Linked DNA regions of Homo sapiens. The protein of the gene in region 2 purifies or fractionates together with the protein of the main gene of each other region. This does not show direct contact. Each region holds a gene or a part of one and is shown on either strand. Other genes may lie near its edges.

Region 1 (4,541 bases), on a different chromosome or scaffold from region 2:
CAGTGCCATTCTTCTCACTAATTCTTGTTGGAAATGAAGTAATGTAATAGATTTAGTGTTGTTATTTTAAAGTGAATATTTTTAAATTTCTCATTGTTAGTTTCTTTCTTTCTTTTTCTTCTTTTTTTTTTTTCGAGATGGAGTCTCGCTCTGTTGCCCAGGCTGGAGTGCCGTGGTGCCATCTCAGCTCACTGCAAGCTCCGCCTCCCAGGTTCACGCCACTCTCCTGCCTCAGCCTCCCGAGTAGCTGGGACTACAGGCGCCCGCCACCATGCCCGGCTAATTTTTTGTATTTTTAGTAGATACCAGGTCTCACCATGTTAGCCAGGATGGTCTCGATCTCCTGACCTCGTGATCCGCCTGCCCCAGCCTTCCAAAGTGCTGGGATTACAGGCGTGAGCCACCGCACCCAACCACGCCCGGCTAATTTTTTGTATTTTTAGTAGAGACGGGGTTTTACCATGTTAGCCAGGATGGTCTCGATCTCCTGACCTCATGATCCACCCGCCTCGGCCTCCCAAAGTGCGGCGATTACAGGCGTGAGCCACCACGCCTGGTCCTCAGTGTTATTTTCTAATCTGGTAAATGTTGACAGATTTAACTCAAAAACAAAGGCTCTTGGGGATGTGCAATAATTTGAGGGACTTGCAATAATTTTCAAGAGTGTAAAGGAGTCCTGAGACCAAAGGGTTTGAGAACCGGTGGTCCCACTTACAGGGGCCTTGTCTTGAGACACAGCAGGAAAGAGGGGTGTTAACTGGTGGTGTCAGCTCTGTCTCCAGTGGGTGATTTTTGCCTCTCTGAGCCTCAGTTGTCTTACCTGCAAAACGGAGTGAGAAATGGTACTTCCTACCTTGTTGGTGCTCAAGAAAGTGTTCACACAACACGAATCCCCATCCTAACAGAATCCTGGCCAGGAGCCCAAGTTATTTCCTGTAATCTACGTTTGAAACGAATGCGAGGAAGCAAAGTGTGCTAAGTGATGCGGTTTCAAAAGCTCCTCTTAAACCCCAGCATTTGTCTTCATGAATATTGCTTTAAAGTCGGCCTGACTGGTTTTCTCCCTCTGCTCCGTGCATGGCCCAGAGCTGATCAAGGAAGTGCTGTCTCTGGAGGAGAAGATCCACGACTTGGCCCTGGAGCTCTACACGCAGAGATCGCTGCTGGTGATGGGGCGGGGCTACAACTATGCCACCTGCCTGGAAGGAGCCCTGGTGAGCCCCCACCCCCAGCCCCCACCCCCACGGAGGACAGGCACAGGAGACCCTGAGGAGCCAGCGGGAAGGAGGGCAGGGCGTTGGGCTTGGGGAGGGCCGGGCCTAAGGACCCCTTGGCCAGTCCTGTGAGCCTGCGCTGAGCACCAGCTCTCCACCAGGTTTCTAGCCCTGGGCACACAGAGATGGGTGAGGCAGGTGCCTGCCCCCAGGGATCTCCCAATCTACTGAGGAGAAAGGGACAGGGCGCCTGGGGTGTGCCCCTCCGGCTGTCCAGGCACTGCCAGGGTCCACTTGGAACAGCTCACTCAGACCTCATGAGCTGCTTCTGAGAGGTTGGCGGTTGCTATTCACCCTCATTCAGGAGGAAACAAAGCCTCTGAAAGCTTAAGTATCTCACTCAAGATGACGTAGGGGACCCGAATCAGACCTGAGTCCATGGGGCCTTCGCTTTTTTCCACCAAAATTGAGGGGTGGGTTCTCCGCAGAGTTTCCTTGTTACCCCTCAAACTTCCAAGGGGAGTTTGAGATCCTGCAGGAATTAACTTCGAAGGCCTTGCTTTTTCAAAAATTGGTGACAGGCCATTTGCCCCCTGCAGCATTAAAGATCCACGCCAGGAAAGAGAAAGCTGATGGGGCAGGGACAGGGTGCCAGGGCCACAGGGCTGCCCAGAGGGTGGGCAGAGAGCCGTGCAGGGTCCTGCATCTCGGACTTGCCCTTTCCTCGCTGTCAGCATGCCATGCACGGAGCAGATGCTCAGCCCAGGTGACGGGGACAGTGCTCCAGCTGAGGCTGCACTGGCCACCAAGACGAGGGCATTAACCGTGGCCCAGCTGGGCTGCCATCCTCTCCCATCTCCTCCCCACCACCCCCATTTGAAAGACAATGCTAGGCTGGCACAGTGGTCCACGCCTGTAATCCCAGCACTTTGGGAGGCCAAGGCAGTCAGATCATTTGAGGTCAGGAGTTCGAGACCAGCCTGGACAACATGGTAAAAGCCCATCTCTACCAAAAATTCAAAAACTAGCTGGGCGTGGTGGTGCACGCCTGTAATCCCAGCTACATGGGAGGCTGAGGCAGGAGAATCGCTTGAATCCAAGAGGAGGAGGTTGCAGTGAGCCAAGATCATGCCACTGCACTCCAGCCTGGGAGACAGAACGAGACTCCCATCTCAACGAAAAAAAAAAAAAAGAAAGAAAGAAAAAAAAAAGAAAGACAATGCCAGTTACAAGTGGTTACCGGAAACATTCAGAGTTGATTTCCTTGGTCTTGGTGGGGAGTGCAGGGCTGTCCTCACTGAGCTCCATCTCCTGCACCTGCCCCCTGGAGATTCTGACTCCTGTTAAAGAACAGGCAGGTGCTGCTTCTTGGAGTGCAGTAGAGGCAAGGCCTGGGGTGCACTGTCAGTCCCCAGATGACTCTGCGTCATGGGTGGGGGCTGAGCTGCGGTGGCTGAACGTGCTGGCGGGAGATGCACATTGCAGCTATGCCTCCGCATGAGTCTGCTGAAGGAAGAAGCGTTTAGGTGGCTGCTGGCACGAGCCCATGGTCCTCTGGTCACTGGGAGGCCGGCACTGCAGCTGTCTGCGCCTCCAGACTGGAGCCGCACTCCTTACAGTGTGGCCCTGACCTAAATCAGCAGTGCTAGCGGGGAGTCGAGAGATGATTTATTTGACTGTCTCACCATTTCAATGACGTGGATTTGTGGTAACTGAATAGAGATGGATCTACCTGAACACAGGAAAAAAATTAATTCAAATAACACCCCAGTTTGTGTGATTTTGCTTGGAACCACTCTTTAGAAGTTATTAATGGGCAAATGCTTAATCAGATAATTAACTGAAGGTGTAGCTAAGCTGAATACGATGCTGTCGTTATACACGTGGCTGGCTAGGGAGGAGCAGGGGGTGAGCTAGGCTGACTCCGACTTGTTTGTCCTAAGGGGTGGCTGTGCGTGGGACTGGAGAGAGACAACAGCAGTGCCCGGGGCTGGTGTGGGGACACAGAGGTTGTGTCCCGGGCTGGTGCATGCTCTGGATGGTAGCCAGGCCTCTCCCCAGGCCCTTGCTGGGTGTCCTCAGTGCTGTCAAGCACTCCAGGCATCTGTCTGCCTTGCAACCCTTGGCTCTCTGCCTTCCAGAGTCATCCTTCCCCTGGTTCCCCTTCTTCCCCTCTGGCTGATCTGCTCCAGCCCCATCTGCCCAGTGTGACTCTGATCTCACCTCCTGTTTCCAGAAAATTAAAGAGATAACCTACATGCACTCAGAAGGCATCCTGGCTGGGGAGCTGAAGCACGGGCCCCTGGCACTGATTGACAAGCAGATGCCCGTCATCATGGTCATTATGAAGGATCCTTGCTTCGCCAAATGCCAGAACGCCCTGCAGCAAGTCACGGCCCGCCAGGTGAGGGCTCTCCACTGGACTGGGCCAGCTCTCTCCTGCTTTTCCCCATGCATGCCCACCTCACCACTGTCTGCCAGTACCAGTGATGGATGGTCTGGCCAGTGAGTGGCTGTGACCACACACCCTCCCCCGGGCCGCCTGTGGGGAGTGCACACACTTGGAAAGGAGCTGGTCAGCCCGCAGCTGTCCCACACAGCTCTTTGGTGGGGCCCAGGGACCCACACTGCTGTGAGCAGCACCAGATCCTAGCCTGGAGCTCAGGGGAGGTACTCCTGGTGGACATCCCTGGGGCAGGGTTTCCCCAGGTTCTGCGGCCAAGCAGCTCCGATGGGAACTACCTGGAGTTAGGTCAGGTCTCATAGGGCAGGGGCACAGCTTTCCATAAGACTGCCCTCGATTCAGGCACCTGTTGCAAGCCAGGGGTCCACCCACACATCTGAGCAACTGACTATGAATCCAAGGATTCCCACTCTCCCCTGAAGTTCAGTAATTTTCTAGAACGACCCATAGAACTCAGGAGATGACTATATGATTACAGTTTTATTATAAAAGATATAAATCACAGCCAACCCAAAAGAAGAGACCCCTAGTTTGAGGGCCCCAGATGTGAAGCTTGTGTCCTCAGGATGTGTCACCCTCCCAGCACGTCACTGTGTGTCGCCCGGGAGCTCCCCTGAGCTGCTAGCTCCAGTGTCCAGAGTTTGTATTGTGGTTTTATTAAGTAGGCAGGATGGAGTGAACCATTGGCCATGTGATCAAACTCAGTCGCCAGCCCCACTTTTGTCCTTGGAGGTTGGGAGGTCAGACTGACAGGCTCATGTCTCAAAGCCCCAACCTTCTAATCATGTGGCTGGCCTTTCTAGCAGGGCCAGACGCCATCCTGGAACTATCTACAGGCCCACCACGAGTCGTCACCTTAGCAT
Region 2 (5,648 bases):
GGTCAGCTGGGTGTGATCCAGAAGACCAGTGACATTTCGACAGTGCAATGGGGGCTGGACACAGTAGCTCATGCCTGTAATCCCAGCACATTAGGAGGCTGAGGTGGGAGGACCACTTGAGGCCAGGAAAGTTCGAGACCAGCTTGGCCTACATGGCAAAACCCCATCTCTACTAAAAACACAAAGAATTAGCCGGGCATGGTGCAACACGCCTGTAATCTCAGCTACTCAGGAGGCTGAGGCAGGAGAATCTCTTGAACCTGGGAGGCGGAGGTTGCAGCAGTGAGCCAAGATCACACCACCGCACTCAAGCCTGGGCAACAGAGATTCCGTCAAAAAAAAAAAAAAAAACAACCCATGAAACAACGCAATGGGCCAGATTTCACCTGTTATCATTGCTAATCAGGACACAGGTTTCAGCTACTCTGTGTCACCCACTTCCTGGAGTCAAGGCAGAAGATCAAGATGCACATGGCTCCTGGGCAGCAGCTCCCCACACACTAGCTACTTTCTTCTGTCTGTGATGGGTGAAGTCTCCTGTGAGGAGACACTCGGGACCACCCCAGTGTTGGGTCAGGCAGCATGACTCTCTTCACCTGCAGCTGTCTTGACCTGGCCAGTGCTGTGCTAGTGTGGACAGATGCAGTGATGCTCTTCCCAGGCCTGGCCCTGCTGTGATCTGGGAACATGGTATGGGACACAGTCAGAACAGTTCTTGTAGAATCAGTCTCCCTGACTTGGGACTGAACTTTCTATTCTGTTATCTGGCAACAATGCTAGGTTCTTGCCTATATTGCAGCACCATAGTCTTCTCAGCCAAACTCAAAGCTCTCACTTTTGCATACTTCACCTGTCCTGCACTATTTAATGTTCATTCTTACAGCAACAAAATATTATTATTTCCTCTTTCAGGTTAGTTATTGCCAGGAAATTGATTTAAAAGTAACCACCTAGTATCACCTAAGTGCTGGCAAAATAGCTCACTCTAGAACACCAAGAAGGATGGTCAGATGGAGACAAAAATGATCAAGGGGCTGAAGAATGGTCCAACCTCTATCTCACTGAGGCAGAAACATGTGATCTCCCAGAGAAGTGTTTAAAAATTTGGTCTAGAATGATATTCCAGTCTAATAAAACATGAGTGTGTGTGGTGGGGCTGCAGATGTAGGGCGGTGGGCCCTGTAGAAACCTTGGCTCTGGCTCAGCTGGAACCAGGGCTGACAAGGTTTAGAAATGCAAGCAGGGCTGGGCTGGGCATGACCAGGCTGGGGCCTCAGGACTTGGGTCTCTGTCTTTCCTGCCCTTTTCTCACAATACTCATTGTCCATCCCAGGTCAAAATGGTTGATAAAAATTGCCATTTATTTTTTTCATTTTTTCCCTTGGTTCACAGAGTACAACTGTTGAGGTATTATACAACAAAAGAACAAACTGATATCTTAGTTATTTTTCTGAACAACGGAGATCCTCTCTTCGACGGGGTGAAGGAGGGGAGAGTGAGAGTCGAGATGTCCCCAGGTCTTATCTCAGTTCGCTGTGGGAGGCGAAGGCACAGAATCATCCAAGGACACCAAGCACCTGAGGACAACCAGAACCTGTGGGTTCTGAAGGAGCAGCCTTCAAAGCTAGTGGCAGAGGGTAGCTCCCCTCCTGCCTGTGGCTTGTGCTGGCCTAGAGAGTATAGGGCAGAAGGATGGCAGATGAGTGACTCCACATCCAGAGCTGCCTCCCTTTAATCCAGGATCCTGTCCTTCCTGTCCTGTAGGAGTGCCTGTTGCCAGTGTGGGGTGAGACAAGTTTGTCCCACAGGGCTGTCTGAGCAGATAAGATTAAGGGCTGGGTCTGTGCTCAATTAACTCCTGTGGGCACGGGGGCTGGGAAGAGCAAAGTCAGCGGTGCCTACAGTCAGCACCATGCTGGGCCTGCCGTGGAAGGGAGGTCTGTCCTGGGCGCTGCTGCTGCTTCTCTTAGGCTCCCAGATCCTGCTGATCTATGCCTGGCATTTCCACGAGCAAAGGGACTGTGATGAACACAATGTCATGGCTCGTTACCTCCCTGCCACAGTGGAGTTTGCTGTCCACACATTCAACCAACAGAGCAAGGACTACTATGCCTACAGACTGGGGCACATCTTGAATTCCTGGAAGGAGCAGGTTGGTGACCACGTACCCTCCTGCCCTGGCATCTGGCATGTGCTGCTCAGTGAAAAATGGGAGTGGGGTGGGGACAGGGGGTCTTATTGAAGAGTCTTGTTCACCAGTTGTAGTCCATACTTAAGAAAATACAAGGTAGTTTAGTTAGTTTTTGATTTTGAAAACATCTAAGTTAGAAATTTCAAATAATTTGATCCTAATCAACTCTCATGAAAAACATATTGTTTAATCTCCATCTTTTTATGACATTATTTAACTGAAGAATGACTTCAAAATGAGGACTACCAAGAAAATGAAGATACGGAATAAGGAAAAGGGCTGAACAGAAAATGTGAATAGAGAGAAATTGAGAAATACTTCCAAAAAATGTAATAAAAAAGAGATAATTTAAAAAATGAAAATTAAAAAAGAGAACAGTAAGGGTTCAGGAGCAATAAGAAACCCCCACCAGTCCCAAAAGACCTCTGGGTGGTCAGTTCCTCTTTGCTGATTTCCAACTTCTCTGAGCTCCTTGGTGTGTCTGCACTTAATAAACTGAAGACTGTTTCACACTCTTCCTCAGACCACAGGTCTTAATCCTAAATGTTCTCCTTTTAATGAAGTCACTACAGAATGCAATCAGGAATGCACAGTTCATCTGTGCTGTAGGCATGAACAATGAAAATAGTCACCAAGTTGAGGACTTTTTTTTTTTTTTTTTTTTGAGATGGAATCTTGCTCTGTCACCCAGGCTAGAGTACAGTGGCGTCATCTCCGCTCACTGCAAGATCCGCCTCCCAGGTTCAAGTGATTCTCCTGCCTCAGCCTCCCAAATAACTGGGATTACAGGCACCCGCCAGATGCCTGGTTAATTTTTTGTATTTTTAGTAGAGACAGGGTTTCACTATGTTGGCCAGGCTGGTCTTGAACTCCTGACCTCATGATCTGCCCACCTCGGCCTCCCAAAGTGCTGGGATTACAGGCATGAGCCACTGCACCCAGCTAAGTTGAGGACTTCTAGTTGGGTAGAGAGGCAAAAATGCTCTTCCTACCTCATTACTGAAACCTTGCAAGAAGAGCAAAAGGACCCCAACCCTGCACCAAGCTTCAGCCTCTGGAAAGACCCTGTGCAAGGCCCTGGCTGGTTCTCTGACCCCTGCTCTCTGGGCTGGAGCCTGCCACGTGGGTTCCTGGATGTGACAATTCCAGAGTCAGTTTTGGAGTTGGGGAAATGGACGGATAGGGAGAAAGGAGATGGAATGAAGTGAAACTGAAAGGAGTGAGAAGATCAAGGTGCACTTTGCAATAGGGCAGATGGTGTTTCTTTCTTTCTTTCTTTCTTTTGATATGGAGTCTCACCCTGTCAACCAGGCTGGAGTGCAATGGCACAATCTCAGCTCCCTGCAACCTCTGCCTCCCGGGTTCAAACAATTCTCCTGCCTCAGCCTCCCTCCCGAGTAGCTGGGATTACAAGCACCTGCCACCATGCCCAGCTAACTTTTGTATTTTTAGTAGAGATGGGTTTTCACCATGTTGGCCAGGCTGGTCTCGAACTCCCGACCTCATTATTCACCCACCCCAGCCTCCAAAAGTGCTGGGATTACAGGTGTGAGCCACCACACCCGGCCCCAGATGGTGTTTCTTGAAGCCATTGTCCCAAGGATGTATGCCTGTGTGTAGTGGGAGTGCTGGGTGGCATTCTTGCATTTTTTTTTTCCTCAGGTCAGGTGGAAGGTTTGACAACATGCCCTAGATGAGGCTCCCTCTGTCCCAGGGCTGAGGTTACCCTGAAAGCTCTTGGAGAGCCAAACCCCTCCCCAGGCACATAGCGCCATCCTCTGGAAATGCAGCTGCAGGTTCAGACACTGACTGAGAGTGAAACTGGGGTCTCACCATGGGAGAGTGGGAAGTGCATCTGGAAATAGGGATACATTCATGGGTGTCTGCCCTGGGGCCACCATGCCCATCCGCTTTTTGTTCTTAACTGCCCAATCTAAAGAAGATCTCCTGATGCCAGGCCCATGGGCAAGCTCCCTAATGGAGGAGAATGTTGGGACTTCTCCTACACAAATGACATCTTCACCAGCAGCTACTTAGGGGCAACAAGGAGGGTGTGTTCACATTAATCTCTCTGTGTGCAATAGGTGGAGTCCAAGACTGTATTCTCAATGGAGCTACTGCTGGGGAGAACTAGGTGTGGGAAATTTGAAGACGACATTGACAACTGCCATTTCCAAGAAAGCACAGAGCTGAACAATGTAAGACAGGACACCAGCTTCCCTCCTGGATACAGCTGTGGATGCCACATGGGGTGTGGTGTGGGCACAGGTGCAACTGACAAAGAGACTTAGAGGAGTGAGCCTGCAGCAGCCTCTACCAGGCTGCCCTGCTTGTGCCTTAGTGGGGAGCGCAGAGGGGCAGGCAGCTAGGGGTCCACTTGCAGGCTCCTGGCCAATCTGAGTTTATCAACTCTGCCCTGTCATGCCACTGCAGCTGCCTGCACCCAGGGCACATGGCCTTCAGACTGCTCTTTCCCCCTGGGGTCCCAGTCTCCTGGGTCCAGTAAGAAGTGGTCCCCTCTCTGGTCTTCCTCCCCTGCCTTCTGGAAGAACCTGGGATCTGACATCACCTCTGTCTGTGGATGCAGTTCTCAGGGTTTCCTTACCCTCCCCTAGACCCAAAAGTGGTAGAGGCTGAGAAGGAGCCCCACTACCCTCCCTCCCAGGCCCTGAGCTGAGCTGCAGCACCTGCTCTAGGGGACAAGCTCCAAGTAAAGCCTGGCTCTGGGAAAACTCTTCCTATGCTTAATCAACACCCTTATTGTAATATTAAAAAATAGGTAGCTGATTGCTTAAATCTGGGAACTGCTTCCACTGGGACAATGCATTCTCCTGCTGCTCTTGGGTGCAGGGATCACACCAGGACAGCCCGGGGTTCCCCTGAGGGCCACTGCTAGGGAGTGGGGAACATTGCACAGGCGCCCCTGGGTCAGAAAAGAGTTGCAGTTCAGCTCAAATCTCCAGAACAGCCCAGGACTCAGGCTTGGGGGCAGCACATGATAGCCAGAGGCCCCGTCTTCCCACTGCTTGACCTGGGAAAGGGCAATGTGGAGAGGAAGCCATTGTTCAGAGCTTGAGCCATGAGCTTCCTGAGCCTCCCTCACCCACTGTCCCTTCCTGTGCTTGTTCTCTCAGACTTTCACCTGCTTCTTCACCATCAGCACCAGGCCCTGGATGACTCAGTTCAGCCTCCTGAACAAGACCTGCTTGGAGGGATTCCACTGAGTGAAACCCACTCACAGGCTTGTCCATGTGCTGCTCCCACATTCCGTGGACATCAGCACTACTCTCCTGAGGACTCTTCAGTGGCTGAGCAGCTTTGGACTTGTTTGTTATCCTATTTTGCATGTGTTTGAGATCTCAGATCAGTGTTTTAGAAAATCCACACATCTTGAGCCTAATCATGTAGTGTAGATCATTAAACATCAGCATTTTAAGAAACTTTGTGTGCTGTAGTT
Region 3 (4,040 bases), on a different chromosome or scaffold from region 2:
CTCTGGGATAGGCGACCACGGTGTCTTCAAAAGCCCCGTCAGGGTTGGCTTCCTGGGGCCGGACCGACTGTGGGTCAGTTTGCACCAGCGCTCTGGAATCGAGTTACGCGCGAAAGGGCAGAGTTTCTGGAGGAAACCGCAGCCTCTCAACCGCTGACCGGGTCTCAGAAGGCCCCCGGCAGGGCCGCTTGGCGGGAACTGACCACGCGCCAGTCAGGCTCTCCAGGGACCTGCGCAGGCGCGTGTGGGCGGAGTCGTGCGCAGGGGGCGGGGCTTCGGGAAGGAGCCACAGAGAGGGCGGGGCGTAGGACCTGCGCTTCGGGGGTGGAGTCGGAGCGGCGCGGCGGCGGTCATGCGGGACGCGGATGCAGACGCAGGCGGAGGCGCTGACGGCGGGGATGGCCGGGGTGGCCACAGCTGCCGCGGGGGCGTGGACACAGCCGCAGCTCCGGCCGGTGGAGCTCCCCCAGCGCACGCGCCAGGTCCGGGCAGAGACGCCGCGTCTGCGGCCAGGGGGTCACGAATGCGGCCGCACATATTGTATCCTTTCCGAGCTGGGGGCTGCTTGCGGCGGAGCGAGGGCTGGACTCGGGGAGAAGGAAAGGAGGGCGGGCGGGGGGCCGACGGAAAGGGTAGCAGGGGGGGACCGGGGCTGGCGTATACGGTCAGAGGTGGTCGGAGGAGGGGAAGACATTGAAATGGAGGGAGAAGCTCTGCTAACGGTGGCCTGGGCGAGGTAAGGAGTGAAGGGGGTGACACTAGGCAGGGTGACCTGAGAGGGGGCTTCAGAGGAGCAAGAAGGCCTGAGACATAGGCAAGATCGTATCAGATGGCACCTTAACCGAATGACCCCCAGCACCCTCAGCGTGCCTTTCCCGACCCCCTTGGAGGCGGAAATCGCCCATGGGTCCCTGGCACCAGATGCCGAGCCCCACCAAAGGGTGGTTGGGAAGGATCTCACAGTGAGTGGCAGGATCCTGGTCGTGTAAGTTCTGAAAGGGACGGGGTTGGGGGAGGCGGCCCATGGAGACATGGGGGACATCCAAGGATGAGCCCTAAGGAGCGCCAGGTGCGCTGGGCCGGTCTCTGCCTGAGGGGCTGTGTAATGGCAGGGCTCCCAAGGGTTTGCTATATTGGGTGCCTGAGGGGCAGAGCGAGGGACCAGGAGTTGCCACCTCCAATTTGATTTTCTTTTCCCCTCACTTTTAGCCGCTGGAAAGCTGAAGACTGTCGCCTGCTCCGAATTTCCGTCATCAACTTTCTTGACCAGCTTTCCCTGGTGGTGCGGACCATGCAGCGCTTTGGGCCCCCCGTTTCCCGCTAAGCCTGGCCTGGGCAAATGGAGCGAGGTCCCACTTTGCGTCTCCTTGTAGGCAGTGCGTCCATCCTTCCCTAGGGCAGGAATTCCCACAGTTGCTACTTTCCTGGGAGGGCCTCATGTTTTATCTGGTTCTTAAATGTTTGTTACTACAGAAAATAAAACTGCGCTACTATTCCAAGTCTGAGTTTATTTGCAGCTGGGGCACCTCCCAATATTCTTGTTGTGCTTGGGTTGCTGGGGGGGGGGTTCTAGAATTCAGATATTCAAGGAGTACAAGGAAATTGAAGACAATTTAGGAAATGGAAGAAAATGAAAATCAATTGGGTTCTGTCATTCAGGATTAACTACTGTCAACATTTTGGAATACTTCCTCAGTTTTACAGTTGCACTTACATAGTAAATGTGTAACTGTAATATACACCACATAATATTTGCAAGTTTAGTGTTAAATTTTTTTCCTGATTTTTAAATCTAACATGAGCTTTTTTCCTCTAACGATCAGTGAAGAAAGTGCTGGGGCAATTGACTAGTGTCTGGGGCAAGGAGTTGGCTCCCTGGAAAATACAGTGTCTCCAGCCTTAGGGCTCTTTTATAGATTCTATCAGATTTTCTGAGAGTGAAAAGGAAGAGGTACAACTGCTTTTATTCTCAGAAAACAAGGAAATGGTTTGATCCTTTTGAGTCTTGCTTTGAAGATGTGCTGTGTGGGACCAGAGCAGCTCTTAACTGTAGGCTTGTTTCCCTCTATGGAGGCAACAAACACCATTCTGGGCACCCTGGCCAGTGCTGCCTAGGTGAACATGAGCTTCTCTATCCTGGTGGGTGGGGACAGCTGCTAGTCCCTGTCCTGCTTGCACACTGGAGTTACCGTTCATCCTCTCCTGCTGGGGTGATGGCCTTCCCTGGTCTTGGGTAGCTTCCTCACACGCCTGTGCTCACCAGTAGTCGTAGTCCGCTGCACACTGGAACGGGAGCCTCTGTGGATATCCAGGGTTCTTTCCCTGTGCAGCTCTCTTCTCTCTGGTTCTCCGCCCTGCAAACTCCAGCTGCTGGGACGCTCTGAATCAGTTTCAACTCCTAAAGTCCGGGTGTCTGCCAGGCTCCACCAGGAAACTCCACACAGGACACTGGGCCAGTCGCATGGCTTACCTTGTTTCCCAGCTCCCACACGTCGCTGTCCCTCACTGGCCCACAGCCAGTTTTTTAATACTCTGCATTCCATATATTTTGTCTGGTTTGGCGTGTTCTTTCATTTGGCATGACATATCCAGTCCCTATTACTCCATATGGAGGAACAGTTTCCCTTTGTAGAATCTGGGGAGCTCTGCCAGTGGTGACGGTGGCACTGGCCTTCAGCTTATGAAGATGACACTTTCCTCTCTCCCTCTCTTTTGCTCTCATTCCTTTCTTCCTTTCTTAATATTTTTTAGACATTAATTATTGACGAATAGTTGACAATTTAGATCTTTCACTTTTTTTTTTTTTTTTTGAGACAGTGTTTCACTCTTGTTGCCCAGGCTGGAGTGCAATGGTGCGATCTTGGCTCACCGCAACCTCCACTTCCCGGGTTCAAGTGAATTCTCCTGCCTCAGCCTCCCAAGTAGCTAGAATTACAGGCATGCACCACCACGCCCAGCTAATTTTGTATTTTTAGTAGACACAGGGTTTCTCCATGTTGGTGAGGCTGGTCTCGAACTCCCGACCTCAGGTGGTCCACCCACCTCAGCCTCCCAAAGTGCTGGGATTACAGGCATGAGCCACCGCGCCCAGCCGATCTTTTGTTTTTTAATTATTATTATTTTTTTTGATACAGGGTCTGGCTCTGTCACCTAGGCTGGCACAATCACAGCTCACTGCAGCCTTGTTCCCCAGCACCTCAGCCTCCTGAGTAACTGGGACCACAGGCATGCACCACCATGCCTGGCTAGTTTTTTATTTTTTGTAGAGAGGGGATCTCGCTTTGTTGCCCAGGCTGGTCCTGAACTCCTGGGCTCCAGTGATCTTCCCGCCTGGGCCTCCAAAAGTGCTGGGATGACAAGTGCGAGCCACCACACCTGGCCCCAATTTAGCTCTGTTTCCCTTCCTCTTCCTCTCATGATGCTTCTGGTAGATTCCATCCATTTCTGAGGGATTTCCCCTGAGGTTAAAACTGCCTTGTTTTCCTGTGGCTTAGTTGTCATTATCATATGATGGTAGTATTTTCAACCATCTCCCTTATCCTCTGTCCTCTGTCCAGATGGTTCTGTCTGGGCCGACGGCACAGCTGTCATCCCGCAACTTCTCTTTATCCTGGGCTACAATCCAGTCCTGCCTCACACGTCCTTCTCTTTATTATTTTACTCCTTATTTGTGCAGTTGGTTGTTATGTGGACTTGTCTAGTTTTGGTAAACACCTACGGTCCTATAACCACCACCACTGTCTGGCACCGTGGCCCCACAGCTGGACGGCTGGAGCTGGCAGCTTTTAAACCCAACTCAGGTGGCTGTCCAAGCCACCCTATTTAAAATTGCATCTCAAAAAAAAACAAAAACAAAAAAAGAAGAAAGGCCAGGAACAGTGGCTCATGCCTGTAATCCCAGCACTTTGGGAGGCTGAGGCGGGCGGATCACCTGAGGTCGGGAGCTCGAGACCAGCCTGACCAACATGGAGAAACCCTGTGTCTACTAAAAATACAAAATTAGCTGGGCGTGGTGGCACATGCCTGTAATCTCAGCTACT
Region 4 (3,956 bases), on a different chromosome or scaffold from region 2:
AGGTCAGGAGTTTGAGACCAGCCTGGTCAAGATGGTGAAACCCTGTCTCTAATAAAAATAGAAACATTTGCCAGGTGTGGTGGTGCACGCCTGTAATCCCAGTTACTTGGAGGCTGAGGCAGAAGAATCACTTGAACCCGGGAGGTAGAGGTTGCAGTGAGCTGAAAGAGCACCACTGCACTCCAGCCTGGGCAACAGAGCAAGACTCAAAAAAAAAAAAAAAAAAAAGTTCAAATCAGGGAGAAAAGAAAATGTAAAATAAATTCATTAAAAACAACAACTCTACTCCCTGCCTGGCAGATGTGTTGGTCATGTGAGGCCGCTGAACTGGGAAGTGGGAGGGAGCTAGAAGCCCCCCGCCCCTTCACCTTGCTCCTTGCCGCACCACTCCTCACTTCTGAAGGGCTGGCCTGTCTGTGTGCTGTCCCCAGAGGGCAGGCAGCCGCAGGGTTCGTGGAGAAGCCCCAGGGTGAGCAGGGCTCAAATTAGTTCCTGACAAGGGTCACGTTGGGGCCTTTCTAGAGAGTGCAGATGTGTGGAGAGATCCAGGGTGATGGGGACCACAGCCACAGGCCACACTCAAGCTGCCCTGAGAGATTCAGCCACCCAGGCCTAGAGAGGCAAAGGGGCTGCCAAAGCTGGACATGGAGGAGCTAGGGAAGGGGCCCCTCTCTGTGCCCATGGCCAGGGTGTTTCCCCCATCCCTGGGAGCTTCCCCTGGTTTATTTCAGAGTAAAGAGAAGCGAGAGAGGCCAGGAGACCCCAGGGGTCAACAGCCAGCTTCCTCCCCGCCTCCTGCCTCCCTGTAAAGCCCAACTTCCCAGGCTAGCACTAGGGTTAAACAGGCACAGGAACTGGGGCCCCTCCCCGACTCCCCCTTGTCAGTGGGCAGAGCTTCTTGGCTCAGCACTTGGGAGGGAAAGCCTCCAGGGCTGGTGGCTGCAGAGGCTCAGGATGCCAAGGGCTGACTCCAGGAGGCTGAACAGAACTGCAGGTGAGGTGGGCAGTGAGACCCCCACACCACACCTTTGGCAAAGCTCCAGGATGCCCTCTTCCAGGAAGCCCTCTCTGACCTCCTAGTTTGGGTTAAGTACAGTTGTGCCCAAGTTGCCCGGGTGGCTGAAATGGTCAGCTCCACTCAGACCTCCCCTCTTCCAGGAAGCTGTTTTTGGGACACACCCTGCCCCTGCTGCCCCGCCCGCCAGTGCCCCTCACCACAGGCCTCTCTCTCTCATTGCTGGGATGATGATAGCAGAGGGGCATCTGCTGAATGGCCAGGCTGCACCAGCGTGTTCACGCCCTTCATTAGCTTGCCTTGCAGATGAGAAAACAGGCTCTCAGATGTATCCGCAACTGCCCAGGTCACATGGCCAAGGCTGCTGTCAGGGTCCAAGGGCACACGCACCCCTGAGCTGGCCCCTTCGACTCCAGGGCAAGGGTGCTGAATGAAGCCCTTTCCTCCACCATATGCAAAGGCAGCCTCGCCACTTAAAAAACAAAGAACACTTTATTCCCTTGACAGTTTCTGTACAGCGACACCAGGCTGTGCAAAGCCCAGTGTCGTCTTCACTGAGCACATTCCCCAGGACGCCTGGTGCAGCCCTCCTCTGCCCCAGGCCCCAACTAGCCACCCCTGTGCCCACTAGCAGGCCCTGTGCCTTCACAGGGATGAAGCCCTGGCACTGAGAATGCCTGGGAGGCACCGTTTGCTGGGGAGCAGAGGGACTGACCTTTGGCTTCTTTGTGGCTGGAGGTGTTCCAGGCCTGGTGAGGGGGTCCCATACTGTTCTCTGCTGAGCCCTCTGCACACTTTGGGGGATCCTGGCTGGCGGTGGTAGGTGGGCCGGAGACTCAGTTGTCCGTCAGCTGGCCATGTCCCCATTTTATGGACAGGCAGCCTGAGGCCCAGAGGCGGAAGGATTTCTCCTTGCCACAGCTGCATCACACTTGAACTGTCCAGACCTCCACCGCTGGCCTGTTTGCTCCCCACCCTAGTCCCGCAGGCTGATATGGTGCCTCCAGCAGACTCCATGGCTTCCCGGAGGGTGCAGGGTCCCCAGTTCACCCTCCAGCAGGAGTGGCAGCAGCTGGGGTACCCCTAGCAGTGGCATGTGGAGAAGCTGGGGTATGCAGAGGATCCAGTTCTGTGACACCAGGAGGCACACCAAGTTTTCCTCTGTCCCTAACACAGACCAGAGGGGTGGCCCACCACCCCCCCGGGTGGAGGATGTGTGGAGTTAGAGGTCCCTGGGTGGCCCCTTGGTTGGCCATCAGAGACCCCCGGGAGCCAGCCTGCAGGGCAGGAGCACAATGACGTGGCCAGGATCCCAGAAAGGGGCTGGAGTGTCTGCCTCAGTTTCCAGGATAACGGTGCAATGGCCTCAGCCAGGCCAGGTGCTGGCTGCTGCTGGGAATAATCTCTGAGCTTCGTGACTCTACAGTGTGGGCATGAGGGTCCTTATTTCATAGATGAGAACACTGAGGCAAGTGCAGTTCTCGGCCAAAACTACCCAGCTGATCAGCAAAATTCAGCCCACGTCTGATAGACTCCACAGCTCGCAGCATCCCAGCAGGAAGCAGGGCAATCGACTCAGGGGCCAATTTATGTCCCAGGTTTCTGAGAAGGAGCCCTGGGGAAGGAGGGCGGGGTGAGCGTCACAGGCTGGAGGGCTGCGCCAGGGCAGGCCCCGCAGGGGCGGCGGGCACAGCCTCGCCCTCGGGCCCGGCCTCCTCGCCGCGCGCGTAGGTGAGCACCACCGTGACGGTGGCGAAGGTGGCAGCGTTGACGGGGAAGGCGCGCAGCAGCGTGGACGCCAGCCCCCGTGTGAAGACGCGCCAGCCCTCGGCGCGGTAGCTCTGGTGCACGCAGTCCAGGATGCCGCGGTAGCGCGGGGCGCCCCGCAGTCCGTCCGCCTGCAGCCGCGACTTGACCACGTCCACAGGATAGGTAGAGAGCCAGGACACGATGCCTGACGTACCGCCCGCCAACAGCAGCTTGGGCACCAGCAGGCGGTCGCCCGGCTCGCAGCCCAGCGCCCGCGTGAGAGCGTCATAGGTGAGGAAGTAGACGCCGAAGCTGGGCGTCTCACGCAGCAACGTGGACACCATGCCCCGGTTGACGCCACGCAGACCCTCGTGCCCGTAGATCTGCGCGAGGCAGTCCAGCGAGCCCTTGTAGGTGCGCGCTGGGCCCGCGTCCTGCAGCTGCAGCCGCGTCTTGGCCAGCTCCATGGGGCAGCAGATGACGCACTGGATGGCGCCCGCCGCCGCACCTGCCAGGAACTGGTTGAGGGGCGAGTCGTGGCCCAGGGCCCGGAGGGTGTTGCCCTGCACCCCGAACACCAGCGCGTTGATGAAGGTGAGCCCCATGAGCGGCGAGCCCAGGCCCTTGTACAGGCCCAGCACCTGCGGGGACAGAGACGCCATCAGAGCCGGCAACGCGCACCTCCCGGGCCCTCCACGCGGAAGGGGGTCGGGGGATGGCAGCCCCAGCCCACCCCAGGGGCTCCTGAGGACCAAGCAGAATTTCGTTAGAACCTAGGTCCTGACTGGCCTCCTGGTCGTCCTGACACCTTCCTTCCTGGCTCTCTGGTCTGGGGTGGTGGCAGCCCGGAAGCTAGTTCCCCATCCTGTGCCTCCCGAGCCCCACCAGCCCAGGCCACTCACGCTCTCTTGCTTGATGATGGACTTGAAGCAGTGCAACGTCCCGCGGTACTGAGGCTTCTCCACGCTCTGGACCTGAAGCCGTACCTGGAAGGAGAGGGTCCAGTGAGAGGCAGGCAGGCAGGACCAGAGCACCCAGCTCCCGGGTCTGGTGCTTAGGCTGCCTAGGAGGGTCTCCCAAGGAGGCCGGGCACTCAGGCACAGTCTAAGACTTTTGTAATTCCAGGGCAGGGTGGGCCGGGTATCTATGCCTTCTCAGGATGGGGTGCCAGTAGGCAAACAGCTAAAGGGAC

What was found. The genes of interacting proteins can lie anywhere in the genome.
Region 1: the proteins of CST9L (region 2) and GFPT2 purify together in Homo sapiens (affinity purification with mass spectrometry; one large-scale study listed by BioGRID and IntAct). This does not show direct contact.
Region 3: the proteins of CST9L (region 2) and PLXNA3 purify together in Homo sapiens (affinity purification with mass spectrometry; one large-scale study listed by BioGRID and IntAct). This does not show direct contact.
Region 4: the proteins of CST9L (region 2) and SLC25A29 purify together in Homo sapiens (affinity purification with mass spectrometry; one large-scale study listed by BioGRID and IntAct). This does not show direct contact.

The regions. Positions count from the first base shown.
Region 1 is NC_000005.10:180,303,849-180,308,389, reverse strand, and holds part of GFPT2 (glutamine--fructose-6-phosphate aminotransferase [isomerizing] 2), read left to right. Parts: intron 1-1,086; coding exon 1,087-1,214; intron 1,215-3,450; coding exon 3,451-3,618; intron 3,619-4,541. UniProt on the Homo sapiens protein: Controls the flux of glucose into the hexosamine pathway. Most likely involved in regulating the availability of precursors for N- and O-linked glycosylation of proteins.
Region 2 is NC_000020.11:23,564,715-23,570,362, reverse strand, and holds CST9L (cystatin-9-like precursor), read left to right. Parts: upstream 1-1,878; 5' UTR 1,879-1,912; coding exon 1,913-2,152; intron 2,153-4,275; coding exon 4,276-4,389; intron 4,390-5,325; coding exon 5,326-5,415; 3' UTR 5,416-5,631; downstream 5,632-5,648.
Region 3 is NC_000023.11:154,475,228-154,479,267, reverse strand, and holds the end of PLXNA3 (plexin-A3 precursor), read right to left. Parts: 3' UTR 1,489-4,040; downstream 1-1,488. Other genes in the region: EKC/KEOPS complex subunit LAGE3, read left to right, coding at 353-540, 857-985, 1,210-1,324. UniProt on the Homo sapiens protein: Coreceptor for SEMA3A and SEMA3F. Necessary for signaling by class 3 semaphorins and subsequent remodeling of the cytoskeleton. Plays a role in axon guidance in the developing nervous system.
Region 4 is NC_000014.9:100,289,628-100,293,583, forward strand, and holds the end of SLC25A29 (mitochondrial basic amino acids transporter), read right to left. Parts: intron 3,751-3,956; coding exon 3,667-3,750; intron 3,406-3,666; coding exon 2,656-3,405; 3' UTR 1,489-2,655; downstream 1-1,488. UniProt on the Homo sapiens protein: Mitochondrial transporter of arginine, lysine, homoarginine, methylarginine and, to a much lesser extent, ornithine and histidine. Does not transport carnitine nor acylcarnitines. Functions by both counter-exchange and uniport mechanisms.